2 separate regions of the Homo sapiens genome follow, and region 2 is linked to region 1. The links come from fine-mapping of genetic effects on gene expression. A gene starts in region 1. The other region holds a variant in brackets. All regions are shown on one strand. Distances are between the middles of the regions.

Region 1 (5,382 bases):
GCAATTATTTAGAACCCTAGGGGCATTAATTTTTTTAATAATCTCATTCAGCAACCTTGTCCTAACATTTAAGAAAGGGCAGCTTTTCCCTTAAGTAGCTCAGTGACTTCTGGTAGCGATGAATTTCAGCATGATTCAGGGCCTATATCTGAGGGACACCTTCAAGCTGCTGGTGGCCAGAGTGCTCTTGCTGGCTGCCTTGGTGGCCAGCTGCTTAGGAGGCTGTCTGCCACCAGTGGACTTCCGTGTGGTTGGCTTGGTGCAGGCCATGACCTTTCATATCAGATTTACAGATCACTTCTCTTTATAGGGCCTGGTGTGTGATCCAATTAGATTTGAGATTTTTTACAGAGAAATGTGACTGGATTTCTACTAAAGTTGAATAATTAATTGTGCTTTACAGTGTAGTCCATTTATAAATTTAGGTCATAAAACTAAGTTTTTGCTGCTGGGTTTTTTTTGTTTTTTTTTTTTTTTCCTTTCCTAAACAGGATCTTGCTTTGCCCCCCATAGCTCGCTGCAGCTTCGAACTCCTGGGCTCAATCAATCCTTCCCCGCGTAATTCTCCCAAGTATCTAAGATCTCAGACTGAGCCACCAGGCCAGGCTTTTTCTTTTCTTTTCTTTTTTTTTTTTGAGACGACGGAGTCTCGCTCTATTGTCCAGGCTGGAGTGCAATGGCATGATCTTGGCTCACTGCAACCCCCGCCTCCCGGGTTCAAGCGATTCTCCTGCCTCAGCCTCCCGAGTAGCTGGGATTTCAGGAGCCCACCGCCATGCCTGGCTAATTTTTTTGTATGTTTAGTAGAAACAGGGTTTTGCCACGTTGGCCAGGCTGGCCTCGAACTCCTGACCTCAAGTGATCCGCCCATCTCGGCCTCCCAAAGTGCTGGGATTATAGGCATGAGCCACCGGGCAGGGCAGGCTTTTTACTTTTTGTGGAGGTGAGGGGGCTGTCTCGCTTTATTGCCCAGGCTGGTCTTGATCTCCTGGGCTCAAGCGATTCTTCTGCCTTAGTCTTTCAAATTGCTGGGATTACAGGTCTGACCTAGGGCGTCAGGCCGTTACTGCTTAGTTTCGTTTAGTGTTTATTTTAGAATACTGTGTTAATTGCTCCTTTTGAAAAGAGAAATCCAACAAACACAATTCTCACTAGAGGAATGTAGTCTTTTTTTTTTTTTTTTTTTTTGAGACGTAGTCTTGCTCTGTTACCCAGGCTGGAGTGCAATAGCGTGATCTCGGCTCACTGCAGCCTCTGCCTCCCGGAGTCAAGCGATTCTCCTGCCTCAGCCTCCCAAGTTGCTGGGACTACAGATGCACACCACCACGCCCGGCTACTTTTTGTATTTGTTTAGTAGAGACGGGCTTTCATTATGTTGGGCAGGCTGATTTCGAACTCCTGACCCTATGATCCGCCCTCCTTGGCCTCCCAAAGTGTTGGGATTACAGGCATGAGCCACTGAGCCCAGCCGGAATGCAGTCATCTTTAAAACTTAAAAAGCCCGCCCTGAAATGCTAATGGGCAGCTATCCTTCTTTGTTCTCTCGTTTCTGTATTAATATTTCACCCTTTTCTGACAAGTGCACATGAATAAACAGCCTGTGTATTAATGATAAATTTGTATACACAGCATGGACCTATACACAAAATAACGCAGTGAAACCTTGGTGTCACAACCTCGGTTTCTATTCTTGTATACCTTTATAAACGCATTTTTACTGCAAAGAAACACCAGTAAGATAAATTAGTGCATGAAATGTGAGCAAGGATTTCAATAAAGAACTGACCAGTAACGTCAGAAGCGTTCGTTAAAAATTAGGACAGTGAACATTGAGATTTCAGGCATCGTATGTGTATTCCAGCACTTTACAGAAAAGGTGGGTGGCTCTGAAAAGAGCCTTTGGTTTCTGGGACTCGGGATCACTGACGGATTTGACTAGTAATCATTTCACTTGCCCTTGGCCTTATGGTGGCTCTCCGTCTTCTTAGGCAGCAATACGGCCTGGATGTTGGGCAGGACACCGCCCTGCGCGATGGTCACGCGACCTAGAAGCTTATTTAGCTCCTCGTCGTTGCGGATGGCTAGCTGCAGGTGGCGCGGGATGATGCGGGTCTTCTTATTGTCGCGAGCCGCGTTGCCAGCTAGCTCTAAGATCTCGGCCGTCAGATATTCCAGCACCGCTGCCAGGTACACTGGAGCGCCGGCCCCGACTCGTTCGGAGTAGTTGCCTTTGCGGAGGAGGCGGTGCACACGGCCAACTGGAAACTGAAGACCGGCCCTGGAAGAACGCGTTTTAGCTTTTGCCCGAGCTTTGCCGCCTTGCTTTCCACGTCCAGACATAGTGGCTTCCTAACAGCAGAAGAACTAACAATCCACTGAATAAAGAAAAAGAATGGGCTCGATGGAGGAATAAGAAGCTAGTTATAGTCATCGGTAGAATTGTGAAAGGCGCAATTTGATTGGTTAAAATTGTTCTTTGACGAGCCAACCAATTAGAAAGGAAATAAGGTGAAGGCTATTTTACATGTATGCGTCACTAACACATTGCCCAATCAGAGCTGGATATTTTGAATTCTTTATTTGCATGAAAGGCCTATAAAAGGAGAGACTCTAGACACGAGCTTTTATTTAAGTGCGTTCATTCTCACTGCTGTTATTGTTTTCTGACAGCATGCCTGAACCAGCTAAGTCAGCTCCTGCTCCGAAGAAGGGTTCCAAGAAGGCTGTGACCAAGGCGCAGAAGAAGGATGGCAAGAAGCGCAAGCGCAGTCGTAAGGAGAGCTACTCCGTGTATGTGTACAAGGTGCTAAAACAGGTTCACCCCGATACTGGCATCTCATCCAAGGCCATGGGCATCATGAATTCCTTCGTTAACGACATCTTCGAACGCATCGCAGGCGAGGCTTCCCGTCTGGCCCACTACAACAAGCGCTCGACCATTACCTCCAGGGAGATCCAGACCGCCGTGCGTCTGCTGCTTCCCGGAGAGCTGGCCAAGCACGCAGTGTCCGAAGGTACCAAGGCTGTCACCAAGTATACAAGCTCCAAGTAAATGTGTGCTTAGGTGCTTTAAAACTCAAAGGCTCTTTTCAGAGCCACTCAAGTCTCACATAAAGAGCTTTAATATTGAATTTCACCGTTTTCTAGGGAATAATTTTTCCGATTTTGTAATCCCAGCACTTTGGGAGGCCGAGGCGTGCGGATCGAGACCAGTTTGGCTAACGTGGTTAAATCTCGTTTCTACTAAAAATACAAATATTAGCCGGGCGTGGGGCAGTCGCGTGTCATCCCAGAGACTCGGGAGGCTGCCGCAGGAGAATCACTTAAACCCAGCAAGCAAAGGTTGCAGTGAAAAGACATGGCGCTTTTGCATTCTAGCCTGGGCGACAAAGGCGAGGCTTCGTCTCAAAAAAAATTGATCAGGAGATACTCCTGTTCTGTGTTGGCAAGATCCTGTAATCCTAGCACTTTGGGAGGTCGATGCATGAGGCTTTCTTCAGCTCAGGAGTTAACAGATTTGCCTGGGCAACATAGAACTCGTCTCTGCAAAAAAATGAAGCTAACCAGGTGTGACGGCTTGCGTCTGTACTATCATTTACTCGGTAGGCTGAGGTGGTAGGATAGCTTAAACTCTCGGGCTAGAGACTGCAGGAACATGTGAATACGCTAGTGCAATTCCAGCCTGGGCAACACTGGAAAGGGTAGGAAGAGTAGTCTTTGGGTCCCTAAAGATCACCTGATAACAAGTTTGACTTTTCTGAGCACTCTTGTGGAGTTTGTTGTGGAGGGAATACCATGGGCATTGGCAATGTAAAGTTGATCTAAAAAATCTCGTTTTCCGCCGTGCGCGGTGGCTCACGCCTCTAATCCCATCACTTTGGGAGGCCGAGACGGGCGGATCACGAGGTCAGGAGGTCGAGACCATCCTGGCTAACACTGTGAAACCCTGTCTCTACTAAAAAAATACAAACAAAATTAGCCGGGCGTGGTGGCACTCACCTGTAGTTTCAGCTACTCTGGAAGCTGAGGCTGGAGAGTCACTTGAACCCGGGAGGCGGAGGTTGCAGTGATCAGAGATCGCGCCACTGCACTCCATCCTGGGCGAAAGAGCTAGATTCCATCTCATAAAAAAAAAAAAAAAAAAAAAAAAAAAAAAATTACAGTTTTGGCTGGCTGGGCGCAGTGGCTCTCGCCTGTAATCCCAGCATTTTGGGAGGCGAGGCTGGTGGATCACTTGAGGTCAGGAGTTCAAAAACAGCCTGACCCACATGGTGAAACCCCGTATCTACTAAAAATAACAAAATTAGCCGGGCGTGGTGGCGCATGCCTATGTTACCCCAGCTACTTCGGAGACTGAGGCAGGAGAAACGCTTGAAACCGGGAGGCGGGGGTTGCAGTGAGCCAAGATCCCGCCATTTCATTCCAGCCTGGACAACAAGAACGAAACTCCGTCTCAAACATAGAAACCATTAGTTTATACTCATTAATCAAATTTCTAAAATGGGACCAAAAAAAAAAAAAAGGTCACTACTCCATAGTACTCCATGAGCAACCTCAGGTTTCTGACAACATAGTACTCCAAAGTATGGCGCCTTGACATAGTAAATATTCTAAGACATTAGTAGAACAACATAGACAAGAATGTTCGTATGACCTTCCTCTGAAGCAGGTCTTAAGACCCTCCTGGGAGTCTTGCAGAGTATGCGAGGAATCTGAACAAATAAACCTTGCTAGATTTCTCCTTGTTTATTATCCTTAGCTCATATTATTTTTGTCTTGTTATATTTCTGCATGACTCTCTTCATCAAACCTAGTGCAAACACACTCAGGTTTAAGCCCTTCTTCAGGTCCTTATTTCCTTATGTCATGTAAAACTTCATATTAAATGTGAATGTTTTTCTCTTGGCCGGGCGCGGTGGCTCACGCCGGCTCACGCCTGTAATCCCAGCACTTTGGGAGGCCGAGGCGGGCGGATCACGAGGTCAGGAGATCGAGACCATCCTGGCTAACACGGTGAAACCCCGTCTCTACTGAAAATTGAAAAAAATTAGCCGGGTGTGGTGGCGGGCACCTGTAGTCCCAGCTACTCGGGAGACTGCGGCAGGAGAATGCCATGAAGCCGGGAGGTGGAGCTTGCCGTGAGCCAAGATCGGGCAACTGCACTCCAGCATGGGCGACAGAGCAAGACTCCGTCTCAAAAATAAATAAATAAATCAAAATAAAAATAAAGTGTATATTTTTCTGTTGTTAATCTGTATTTTGTTTCAGGGCCCCAGCCAATGAACATAAGATGGGTAAAAGGAAACGCTCTTTCCTCCCCTACAACATACAGTAGGGGTGGGTGTGCATCTGTGTTCTGTGTGTTTGTCTTTGTGGAGTACA
Region 2 (5,382 bases), 69 kb after region 1:
CACCGTGTTAGCCAGGATGGTCTCGATATCCTGACCTCGTGATCCGCCCGCCTCGGCCTCCCAAAGTGCTGGGATTACAGGCTTGAGCCACCGCGCCCGGCCGGCAAAGAATATAGTGATCTTGTTTCACATAAAATCCATCAATGGATGCTAAAATTAGTGGGCAAATTTTAAGACGCATGATTTGTTTCTCCAAGTTACCTTATCAACTACAAAGGAAAAGATAGTAAGTTTACATTGAAGAATCCTAGCAATCACCACCTTAACTAAGTAAAGTAAACATCACAAAGCAACAAGGCATATGTGTTTCATAAACTCATTGCATTGAGAAGGACATTTTATCATTTTGGTAGTATTTCCTGTCAAAAACCCAGAAACTCACTCCAGTGGAAAAAAAAGGACAATCATCAAGGGATATTCTTCAAAATAACTCATCAGCACTCTTCAGAAGTGTGAACATCATAAATATAAGAACAGACAGCAGAACTAATACAGACTTAAAGAGTCTAAGAAACAAGCAGTGACTAAATTCAGTGGGGGATCCAGAATAGGATTCTGACACAGAAAAAGAACATTAGGGGGAAGATGTGTGATATTTGAATGGGTCAGAAGTTTAGTTAATATTTTACCAATGTCTACTTCCTATTTCTGATCATTGTATATGGTTATGTAAAACATTAACATTACAGGAAAACAGTTGCTGAAAATAAGAAACATTGTATACTCTATTTGCAACTTTTTTTCACAATTTTTTGCAAAAATAATTCTCTTAGGATTTTGCCATGTTAGAATACTTTCCGACGGGCGTGGTGGCTCACGCCTGTAATCCCAGCACTTTGGGAGGCCGAGGCGGGCGGATCACGAGGACAGGAGATCAAGACCATCCTGGCTAACACGGTGAAACCCCGTCTCTACTAAAAATACAAAAAATTAGCCGGGCGTGGTGGCGGGCACCTGTAGTCCCAGCTACTCGGGAGGCTGAGGCAGGAGAATGGCGTGAACCCAGGAGTCGGAGCTTGCAGTGAGCGGAGATCACGCCACTGCACTGCAGCCTGGGTGACAGAGCAAGACTCCGTCTCAAAAAAAAAAAAAAAAAAAAAAGAATACTTTTCATAGGTGGTAAAAAGAAACAATGCAAAACACCAAACTGTGATATAGAGAGTCTCCATAGTGGTGGAAATACAAATTATTTTTATTATTGTATCTAAACCTTTATGTGTTTTCAAAATTTCTACTGTCAGCATGGATTTCTTTTTTAACAAACAACATCTTTCTAGAGCTGCGCACGGTGGCTCACGCCTGTAATCCCAGCACTTTGGGAGGCTGAGGTGGGCGGATCACTTGAGGTCAGGAGTTCAAGATCAGCCTGGCCAACATGGTGAAACTCTGTCTCTACTAATAATACAAAAAAATTAGCTGGGCATGGTGGTGGGGATTACAGCTACTCAGGAGACTGAGGTGGGAGAATCTCTTGAACCTGGGAGGTGGAGGCTGCAGTGAGCCAAGATCCTGCCACTGCACTCCAGCCTGGGTGGCAATGTGAGACTCTGTCTCAAAGAAAGAAACAAAAAACAAAAACAAACAATGTGTTTTTCTTAAAAATATGATAAAGTTTATTTTTTAAAAAATGTCTGCTTAGTGTCCTGGACATCCAGATACTATTCCCTTTGTACTCTCCTTCTCTCCATTATCTGAACTTTTATTAAAATCATTTTCTAGTTTTTTTTCTTTATAGGTATATGTACATATGTATCCATGAACAGTATGATTCAGTTTGTCCTGTTTCTGAAATTCATATATGTGAAATCATAGTGTATTATTGTGTGCCTTGCTCTTTTTTTCCTTCACTAGGATCCATTCCTCTTTATTATATTGATGCAGAAAGCTCAATTTTGTTGATTTGCATTGCTGTTCTATATTATAAATTTGGCTCCATGTATTTACTTATCTAGTCTACTCCTCATGGACATTCTCATGGTTGTATAACCTGGCCTATTTAATTTTGTTGACTCTTCAGGCTTGTGTCTCTAAACTATCTCATAAGAAATTTGATGATTCTGAGGCCACTGTGGTCTGTGAAAGCCAAGATGCACGTGGAGACCATGTTTGGGCATTCCTCTCCTCCCTTCCTCACCTTTCCCCTCTTCTCCCTTCCCCTCTCTAATTTCAGTAAAGCTGATCACAACCAACTAAATTGTCTTCATGAATAGCAATCAGAATACTGAAGAAATACTATGTTATAGGCGGCAGGGTGAAAAACATTGGTTTTGGAGATATTGGCAACCTTTCCATTCACTTTAACATTGAACCTATAATCATTTTTTCAAAGAATCTCTTCAGCATCTATTTATTCAAAGTTCTGGCCTCTGTCTTTGGAAGAGGTGGTTTAATGAACACATTGCATTTGGCCTTCTTGTGTATCTTCAGTTTTTCAGTTTCTCTCTTTATCTATGATACTTCCTGTTATTGTTTCCTCAATATCTCTTTACTTTTTCCTTTCCATCCCCCTTATATTAAATGAATTTGCTGGTTTGTAAATGTAAGGATTATCTGTTTACACATGATCACTAATTTATATGGAGTGGCAGCTTGGCATAGTGTTTAAACAGATTGACTCTGGTATAGACTCTATTGCTACATAACAAGTTGTCCCAAAATTTAGTGGCTTAAAATAATAGGAAAAATTCATTATGTCACATGGTTTCCATGATTCAGGAATTTGAGGGTGAGTGAACTGTAGTTTCAACACGGGATCTGTCATGAGATTGGAGGCAAGCTATTTGCTGGGACTTTAGTCATCTGCAGACTTAAGCTGAAGAATGGGACTGGAAAATTCCCAGATGGCTTACCTGGCTAGAAAG[C/T]TGATGTTGGCTATTAGCAGAAGACTTCCGTTCCTTGGCACATGACATCTTTTGTAGGGCTACACAAGGGTTCAATATATGGCAGCTGGCTTCCTCCAGAGTGATTCAAGAGACAGCAAAACAGAAGTCATGATATCATTTATGACTTAACCTCTTGGGAGTCACAATATTTATTAGTTTCATAGGTCAGAGCTATCCAATTTGGGAGTGAGATACACAAGATATACAAGTCTGTGAATACTAGAAGGTGAGAATTTACTGAGCCATCTTGGAGTCTGGGTATCAGAGTTATGGAGACAGACCACTCCATTTCAATCTCAATCCTGTATTGTTTACTAGGTGACTTTAAGAAACTTCCTAAACTCTATTTCTCAATTTTCTCATGCCTAAAATTTAGATAAGAATATGTAGTAAATTGTACTATTGCTCCCATGATTTTACTGCCCTTTTTGGGAGTATTATATATCCTTGCCCATTGATATGGGTTTACTATATTCCTCTCCATGTAAGGAACACTCTTTCCTACTACACATAAGTCTTTGTAAGTGAGTTGCTTTGGTCAATAAAATATGAGTAGAAGTACCATGTGTCTACTTTCCTGCAGAATCTTTAAGAGCATTGAGATCCCTTTATGTCAGTTTCTCTCAGCCTGGGTCTGTCTATGAAGAAAATATGGAGCAGAGCCATTGCTGATCCATACAGAAATAGAATTTGGGCCTGAAATAACCCTTCTTGTTATTATCCACCAAGATGTGGGGAGTTTTTATATAGCTTGGCAAAAACTTAACGGTTACAACTATTACCTACTTTAGTAGGATTGTTGGTAGGAGTAGACAATATTTTTGAAGTGCTTATAACAATGTCTTGCACATAGTAAGAATATCTATTACTATGATTATTCAAACCTAAATTCACATGAGATAGGTTTATAAGCCATACCATTACTTTATCAATTTATAATGAAAGATACACTTCATATTAAAAATTTGTATCAGAAGGCCGGGCGCGGTGGCTCACGCCTGTAATCCCAGCACTTTGGGAGGCCGAGGCGGGCGGATCACAAGGTCAGGAGATCGAGACCATCCTGGCTAACACGGTGAAACCCCGTCTCTACTAAAAATACAAAAAATTAGCTGGGCGCGGTGGTGGGCGCCTGTAGTCCCAGCTACTCAGGAGGCTGAGGCAGGAGAATGGCGTGAACCTGGGAGGCGGAGCTTGTAGTGAGCCGAGATCGCGCCACTGCACTGCAGCCCGGGCGACAGAGCGAGACTCCGTCTCAAAAATAATAAATAAATAAATAAATAAATAAATAAATAAATAAATAAATAAATAAAAATAAAAATTTTAAAAAATTTGTATCAGAGCCGGGCGCGGTGGCTGACGCCTATAATCCTAGCACTTTGGGAGGCTGAGGCGGGCGGATCACGAGGTCAGGAGATCGAGACCATCCTGGCTAACCAGGTGAAACACCGTCTCTACTAAAAATACAAAAAATTAGCCGGGCGTGGTGGCGGGAGCCTGTAGTCCCAGCTACTCAGGAGGCTGAGGCAGGAGAATGGCGTGAACCCAGGAGGCAGAGTTTCCGGTGAGCTGAGATCGCGCCACTGCACTCCAGCCTGGGCGACAGAGCAAGACTCCGTCTCAAAAAAAAAAATATATGTATTAGAGATGTGTTTATTGCATTACATTCTGGTCTGGAGGCAAAGATACAAATTAGAAGATAATTTCTGTGCATAGAGTTGTAATAAAAGACATTTTCATCAAGCAGTGGTCTCCTGACCAATCGGCTCCTCTATCCCAGGGACACTTGTGTACTGCGTTCTGCTCTGTGGAAAAGATACAGTGAACAATTCATCATTCTATTTTCTAGGTGATCACCAGCCTTTTTTTTTTTTTTTTTTTTAATCATAGTTGCTGTTACATGAAGTCTCTGAATTTCTAGTGTGGAGACTAAAGTAACTCAATCTTAGATGCTAATCTGCTGTATTGACTTCTAAATAATCCCAGTTCTGGGAATGCCTCTAAGATTTCTACTTCCCTGTACTTACCATAAATCCTGCCCTTAAGTCAAAACAATCTTGATATTATTGTAAACACATACTTACTATAAATCCTGCCCTTAGGCAAATTCCCTGTGATCTATAAGCCCTGGGGTTTGGGGTGGGGTAATGGCAGGTAGGCAAATTCACCAAGTTGTCTACATGCCATGGAAGACATGGCTTCTGTTTATAAGTCCCTATTAAAATTTTCTTTCTTGATTTTTCATCATCCTTCTTATGCCTCTCAGTTTCCTTGGCCTTTGGAGGCACGTTTGCTTAGAACTACTAATGGAGGAACATGTTTTCAGTATAATATACCTGTTTAATTTTTGTCAGTTATGGCCAGGCACGGTGGCTTATGCCTGTAATCCCAGAACTTTGGGAGACCGAGGTGGGCAGATCATCTAAGGTAAGGAGTTTGAGACCAGCCTGGCCAACATGATGAAACCCGGTCTCTACTAAAAATACAAAAACAATTAGCT

What was found. PIP is the estimated chance that this variant, and not a neighbour inherited with it, causes the effect. A credible set is the group of variants that fine-mapping cannot tell apart.
Region 2: its variant is the best candidate, but not a certain one, in a credible set for the expression of H2AC8 in whole blood (TOPMed, PIP 0.50).

What each region holds. Positions count from the first base shown.
Region 1 is chr6:26,213,933-26,219,314 of GRCh38, reverse strand. It overlaps H2AC8 (H2A clustered histone 8), which reads right to left and starts at 2,394. Exons shown (of 1, transcript NM_021052.4): 1 at 1,878-2,394. The coding sequence starts at 2,340. The coding sequence ends at 1,948. H2BC8 (H2B clustered histone 8) reads left to right here and starts at 2,627. Exons shown (of 1, transcript NM_003518.4): 1 at 2,627-3,115. The coding sequence starts at 2,672. The coding sequence ends at 3,052. It also overlaps the pseudogene H3C5P. RefSeq lists enhancers at 1,574-1,683, 1,599-2,250, 1,964-2,383, 2,251-2,902, 2,814-3,163 and 2 more.
Region 2 is chr6:26,144,648-26,150,029 of GRCh38, reverse strand. No RefSeq gene overlaps it. Among named protein-coding and RNA genes, the nearest start is that of H1-4, 9.0 kb to the left of the region's middle. The variant C/T (reference allele first, on the strand shown) is at 2,862.